Linked DNA regions of Homo sapiens. The protein of the gene in region 1 purifies or fractionates together with the protein of each later gene. This does not show direct contact. Each region holds a gene or a part of one and is shown in the gene's direction. Other genes may lie near its edges.

What was found.
Region 2: the proteins of BRF1 (region 1) and ZNF649 purify together in Homo sapiens (affinity purification with mass spectrometry, with the first as the bait; one large-scale study listed by BioGRID). This does not show direct contact.

What each region holds. Positions count from the first base shown.
Region 1 is NC_000014.9:105,224,365-105,228,185, reverse strand, and holds part of BRF1 (transcription factor IIIB 90 kDa subunit), read left to right. Parts: intron 1-1,043; exon of another isoform or gene 1,044-1,197; intron 1,198-1,425; coding exon 1,426-1,552; intron 1,553-1,895; coding exon 1,896-1,935; intron 1,936-2,024; coding exon 2,025-2,117; intron 2,118-3,821.
Region 2 is NC_000019.10:51,888,735-51,892,197, reverse strand, and holds the end of ZNF649 (zinc finger protein 649), read left to right. Parts: intron 1-300; coding exon 301-1,580; 3' UTR 1,581-2,963; downstream 2,964-3,463. UniProt on the Homo sapiens protein: Transcriptional repressor. Regulator of transcriptional factor complexes and may suppress SRE and AP-1 transcription activities mediated by growth factor signaling pathways.

The sequences.
Region 1 (3,821 bases):
TCCGTCTCCTTTTTGCTGTGGCCCGTCCTGGACTTTGAGAGCCCAGGTGACCCCTGTCCCAGTGAGAAGCCGGAGTGCCATAAGAGGTCCCCGCATCAGTGAAATGAGTGGCGTAGCAAGCCAGGCAGGCAGGGGTGGGGCTTTGCACCCCGGCTTTGCTGGGTGGTATTTGTCGGGGTTCCTCACAGCTCGCCTGCACCGCAGCCCTGTTTCATAGACTTTGACAAGGTAAATGTGACAGTGGAGTTGCTGCCACCTGTAACTGCTGTGACATTTATCACAAATCTTAAACACAGGACTGCTGTTTTTCAGCTGAGATTGTGTCCTGTGGCATTTTCCAAAACCAGCTGTAAAGTATTTCACTTTAAACATCTGACCATTGATTCTGTAAAAAAAATCTTTGATGAAACGTGTTTGAAGGTTGTGTAGCGTGTAGAGGCGTTCGTAAGAACTGAGCCCCATGGCTCACAGGCCTGCAGGGCCCCTTCCTGCCCGACTGCCAGGTGCTGAGGTTCTAGCCCAGCCTCCTCTCTTCAGGCCTTCTGAGTCTTCCGCCTAGGATTGGGGTTCTCTTGTGAGGGATGAGGGTGCCTGTGGGCCTTTCTCCTAGTGAGCAGAGGTCCGGGCAGGATCGGGTAGGGGTGGAGAAGCCGCCAGAAGGGACCTGGGCGCCGAGGGGCAAGGCCTGAGTGCCAGGCCCCGTGGAGGAACATCCGACAAGCACAGTTCAGGTATTTGTTTTTATTGTTATTTATTCATTTTTTTGACACAGATTTTCGCTCTTGCCGCCCAGGCTGGAGTACAGTGGCACGATCTTGGCTCACTGCAAGCTCCGCCTCCTGGATTCAAGCGATTCTCCGGCCTCAGCCTCCCGAGTAGCCGAGATTACAGGCTCCCACCACCATGCCCAGCTAATTTTTGTTATTTTTAATAGAGATGGGGTTTCACCGTGTTGGCCTGGCTGGTCTCAAACTCCTGACCTCAGGTGATCCTACCACTTCGGCCTCCCACATGCTGGGATTACAGGCATGAGCCACAGCACCTGGCCTTTTATTTTTTATGTATTTTTTGAGACAAAATCTCACTCTGCTGCCCAGGCTGGAGGCCAGTGGCGCTATCACAGCTCGTTACAGCCTCAACCTCCTGGGCTCAAGCGATTCTCCCTGACCTCAGCCTCCCAAGTAGCAGAAACTACAGGTGTGTACCACCATGCGTGGCTAATTTTTTTTTTTTTTTTTGGGTAGAGACAGAGTCTCACTGTGTTGCCTAGGCTGGTCTCAAAGTCTTGGACTCAAGCAATCCACCCACCTTGGGCTCCCAAAGCACTGGGATCACAGGCATGAGCCACGCCCAGGCGAAAGCTCAGTTTTAAACAGCTGGTTTCAGAGCCACCAGCTCCATTTCCCATGTCTGGCTCCATTTTAGGCTCACGGAATTTGAAGACACCCCCACCAGTCAGTTGACCATTGATGAGTTCATGAAGATCGACCTGGAGGAGGAGTGCGACCCCCCCTCGTACACAGCTGGGCAGAGGAAGCTGCGGATGAAGCAGGTAGCGCCGGCTTTGGTGTCTGTCTGTGCTGGGCTTGCCAGCCTTGGGGGGAAGCCACACACCCCGACTGGGGTTGTAGCAGAGCTGGTGCCATCCCAAAGCCTCATAGCCGCTCTTCAGTGCTATGACCAGCCAGAGCCCGAGGCTCCGGGATGCCCCTCACACAGACTCTGGGAAGTGCCACCTCTTCCCATGGGGGACACAGGCCCATAGCTCCACCTCCATCGCTGCGTACCCCTAAGTTCTAGCAGCCTGTGGTCCCTGGGGCCCACGCGGCACCCCAGAGGCTGCGCTGTGCACCAGGGCCTCCCTTCACGAAGCCTCTTGCCCTGTTCCCTTTCAGCTTGAACAAGTCCTGTCAAAAAAACTGGAGGAGGTTGAAGGTAACCAACCAATCTTCCCATGTAATGCTTCTGTTTTGTTGGGAAAATTGATTTTATGCTGACTTTTTGCTTTTAACTTATGACTTCAGGTGAAATATCCAGTTACCAGGATGCAATTGAGATTGAACTAGAAAACAGCCGGCCAAAGGCCAAGGGGGGCCTGGCCAGCCTGGCAAAAGATGGTGAGTCCACTGTGCCCGGCCCCTATTCAGACCTTTAAAATGTGCTAGAGTCTCAGCAGATCTCTTCAGGATCAGAAAAAGACCTGGAAAGGGAAGGGGATTATCTACAGAATGTAAGTTTACCACCGGGCAGGGTGGCTCACGCCTGTAATCCCAGCACTTTAGGAGGCTGAGGCAGGCGGATCACGAGGTCAGGAGATGGAGACCATCCTGGCCAACATGGTGAAACCCTGTCTCTACTACAAATGCAAAAATTAGCTGGGCGTGGTGGTGCGCACCTGTAGTCCCAGCTCCATGGGAGGCTGAGGCAGGATAATCATTTGAACCTGGGAAGTGGAGGTAGCAGTGAGCCAAGATCGCACCACGGCACTCCAGCCTGGGTGACAGAGCGAGACTCCGTCTCAAACAAAAAAAAAAAGAATGTAAGTTTCCCCTACAAAAGACAGCTTTGCGGGGCCATTTCAAAATATGTCAAAGATATTTTGGGGTAAAATATTTTTATTTCTTTCAGGGCCTGCTACCTGTCATTGATGTTGTACTAGAGTCAGGTTGGAATTTGGTATCTGTTGCTACAAAGTCTGGTCAATCATCAGATCTGTGTTTTGATGTTAATGCTGATGAGCTGTGCCTGAACTCCAAAGGGAGGGGGTATAAGCGGGTATAATGAGGCGTGTCTGACCCCGCCCCCACTTCCCATCATGGTCTGAACTAGCTTTTCAGGTTTCTTTGAAATCTCCTTGGCCAAGAGAAGGGATCCATTTGGTTGGTTGTGGGGCTTAGAATCTTGTTTTTGATTTGTATTCTGTACTGTGTATTTTCACTTGGGGGTTAGTAGGAGCCACGGGAGGGCCTGAGAACAGAGGCAGGAGGTAGGGAGGCTGTTGCAGGAACCCAGGGTGAGAGACCTGGCCCAGCCTGGTCGAACTCTGGAAGTACTTTTGGGGCAGAGCCAACAGTCCAGGGAATGTGCATGTCCCGGGAATGTGGCAGCCGGAGCCCCCAAGGCTCCTGGCACCTGCGGCCTGGGCCCACTTGCCCGGGGAGGGGCTTCTGAGAGGCTGCTCTGTCCAGAGGTCATCGTCCACTGACAGCTGCTCTCTGGGGATCAGGTGCTTTCCCCCAAGGAGCCATTCCTCACCATGGGGACCCCTCCGGGACTCAGTGCTAGCCAGGAATCTTGTATTGGAACACATTCAGAAGAAAGCAGTCTAAGACTAGGGAGTGGGTCAAGCATGGTGGTTCATGCCTGTAATCGCAGCACTTTGGGAGGCAAATACAGGAGGACTGCTTGAGCAGAGTTCAAGACCAGCCTGGTCAGCATAGTGAGACCCCATCTCTACAAAAAATAAAAAAATTAGCTGGGCATGGGAGTGTGCACCTGTAGTCCCAGCTCCTCGGGAGGCTGAGGCCGGAGGATCACTTGAACCCAGGAGTTCGATGTGCAGTGAGCTATGATTGCACCACTGTATTCCAGCCTGGGCAGCAGAGCCAGACCCTGTCCCCAGTATACACACACACAAAATCCAGAGTGGGATGTTTTAAGATGAGTTTTGCCAACCTTAAAGGAAGAAGCAGAGGCAAAAGTAATCTACATAATTTATTTGGGTCAAGCTTGAGGATTGCAGCCAGGGTGGACATATCCCATTGCCTTGAATATACACTCTGGTGAGCAGCAGTTACACATGGACTTTTTCTTTTTTTGGA
Region 2 (3,463 bases), on another chromosome or scaffold:
TTCACCATGTTGGCCAGGATGGTCTTGATCTCTTGACCTTGTGATCCACCCGCCTTGGCCTCTCAAAGTGCTGGGATTACAGGCATAAGCCACCGCACCCAGCTGGCAAATTTTATCTTATATGTATTTAACTACAATTCTTAAAAGTTTTTTTAACAGATAGGGAACACTTATACTTGGAATTCCTTCCATGTTGGTATTATAGGGGTTCCAGTAAAAAGCCAGCCAACCCCAAGGCATCTTTGAAGCAGTTTTATTCCGTGTGATGATCATGGAAGGATTTATTGTTCTCTCTCTTAGAAATTGAGAAAGCTGATGATCATCTGCAGCAGCCCTTGCAAAACCAAAAAATACTGAAGAGGACGGGACAACGCTATGAACACGGAAGAACTTTGAAATCATATTTAGGTTTAACCAACCAGAGCAGAAGATACAACAGAAAGGAGCCTGCTGAGTTTAATGGAGATGGAGCTTTTCTCCATGATAATCATGAACAAATGCCTACGGAAATTGAATTCCCTGAAAGTAGAAAACCCATCAGCACCAAGTCACAATTCCTTAAACATCAGCAAACACACAACATAGAGAAAGCCCATGAATGCACTGACTGTGGGAAAGCTTTCCTCAAGAAGTCTCAGCTCACTGAGCATAAGAGAATTCATACAGGAAAGAAACCCCACGTGTGTAGCTTGTGTGGGAAAGCCTTCTACAAGAAGTACAGGCTCACTGAACACGAGAGAGCTCACAGAGGAGAGAAACCCCACGGGTGTAGCTTGTGTGGGAAAGCCTTCTACAAGAGGTACAGGCTCACTGAACACGAGAGAGCTCACAAAGGAGAGAAACCATACGGGTGCAGTGAATGTGGGAAAGCCTTCCCCAGGAAATCTGAGCTTACTGAACATCAAAGGATTCACACGGGAATTAAGCCCCATCAATGCAGCGAATGTGGGAGAGCTTTCTCCAGAAAATCACTACTCGTTGTACATCAGCGAACTCATACAGGAGAGAAGCCTCATACATGCAGTGAATGTGGAAAAGGCTTCATTCAGAAGGGCAATCTCAACATACATCAACGAACTCACACTGGAGAGAAACCTTATGGATGCATTGACTGTGGCAAGGCCTTCAGCCAGAAGTCTTGCCTTGTAGCACATCAGAGATATCATACAGGAAAGACTCCCTTTGTATGTCCTGAATGTGGGCAACCCTGTTCACAGAAGTCAGGACTCATTAGACATCAGAAAATTCACTCAGGAGAGAAACCCTATAAATGCAGTGACTGTGGGAAAGCCTTCCTTACAAAGACAATGCTCATTGTACATCACAGAACTCACACGGGAGAGAGACCCTATGGCTGTGATGAGTGTGAGAAAGCTTACTTCTATATGTCTTGCCTTGTTAAACATAAGAGAATACACTCAAGGGAGAAACGGGGGGATTCAGTGAAGGTGGAAAATCCTTCCACAGCAAGTCACAGCTTAAGTCCTAGTGAACATGTGCAGGGGAAAAGCCCTGTTAATATGGTAACTGTGGCAATGGTGGCAGGGCAGTGTGAGTTTGCCCACATCCTGCATTCATGATAAACAGTTTGCTGTTTGATCATATAGCCTCCAGCGGAATGCTGAGTTTGTCATGTCCCATGGGCCTTTGGCTCCCTGCACTAATATGTATAGTAGGGTTTACAAGATATGAAATATATTTTACTTTTTTATATCTTATAAACCTCACTACCCCTCCCACAATATTGTTTTTCATTTACTATCTTGATCATAGAGTTTGGCTGGGGAGGGGGGCAGTTTTAGAGGCTTCCACTTGGTGTTCCTCAGAATGATATCTCTTACTCCGGGGGCCAAGGTAGGGGTTAGCTTTTGTTCTCTTTGTAGTTTAGATTGTATCTCTTGCCTTGTTCAAGTTCACAAATCTTTTTGTGTATACACATATGTACATGAAAATGATGTTCATGCTTTTTATTATTTTACCCTTCATTATTTCATTTTTTATAGTTCTCATAGCTATGTCTTTCAGTTCACTAATCTTTTTTCCACAGTGTTTAATCTGTCATTAATCCCATCCAAAGTATGTTTTCTCTCAGAAATTGTAATTTTTAACCTCTAATAATTTGACATGGGTTTTTCCCTGTTATATCTTTCATATCTTTATTTATCATGGTTTTACTTTTAACCTATTTATGCTTTCATATTTAAAGTGGGTGTTTAGTGGGCAACATACAGTTGGGCCTTCCTTTTTTATCCAGTTAACAATCTCTGTCTTTTTACTGGGGTATTTAGATCATTTACGTTCAATGTATTGATGTTTTTAGGTTTAAATTACTAACTTACTATTTGTTGTTTATTCTATGTCTTCTTTGTTCTCCTTTTCTTCTTTTTCTGCTTTCCCTTAGAGTAGCTGAGTGTGTTTATATTACATATTGTCTCCTTTGTTGGCTTATTAACTGTAAATCCTTGTCATTTGATTCCTTGAGATTTTATAGCATACATCATTGTGAGGGATTGCATATTTATGTCCTCTCCAAATTTACATGTTGAAGTCCTAATCCCTAAGGGATGGCATTAGGAAGTGTGACCTTTGGAAGGTAATTACATCTTGAAAGTGGAACCCTCATGATGAGATTATGTGTCTTATGAGACAACACAGAAGAGAGTTTGTTTTCTCTTTCTCTGCTCTTTGCCATGTGAAGACAGAATGAGATGACCATGCATAAACCAGGAAATGGACTCTCACTGGACACTAGACCTGCCAACACCTTGATTGTGTTTTAGAGTCCAGTTCTAGAGACTCCTCAGCCTCTGGAACGTGAGAAATGAATGTTTGTTAAGGCAGTCAGTCAGTCTATGGTGTATTTTTTCTAGTAGCCTGAACTGACTGAAAGAAAATCATGAACTTATCATTCTAACTTCAAGGACATTATATCACTTACTGTATAATAAAATAATCTTACAGTAGTATATCTCTATTTCCTGTGACCAGATCAGTGTCAGTGAAGAGATTGTCTTCTAGATGCTACTGGAATACATATTTGAGGTATGGGTAATCTTGATTTTACATGATAAATTCATTCTAGCATTCCAAACTCCATTTATCTTTGGGTACTTTATAATATATGAGGAAATTTCTGGCATTTAAACTTCATTTAGTGTAGGCAAATTTTGAGTCCAAGTTTCAGTCAACCAGCCAAGTCAACAGTTAGCACCACTCAATTTAGCTCACACACTGAAATTGCCAGTAGAATGTAATCTCCATGAATGAGAGTCTTTGTGCCTGAATTTCCAACTGTTGTATTCCCAGCACGCACAACAGTGTTTGACACATTAGGCATTTTATAAACATTCGCTGGATAAATGAGTGAATGATCAATCCCTTTAAAGGTTCTCTGAGGCTGGTTATAAAATTATAGGGAGCAGGTTTGGTGCTAGAATTCATCAGTTAATTGATCAGCTGAGTT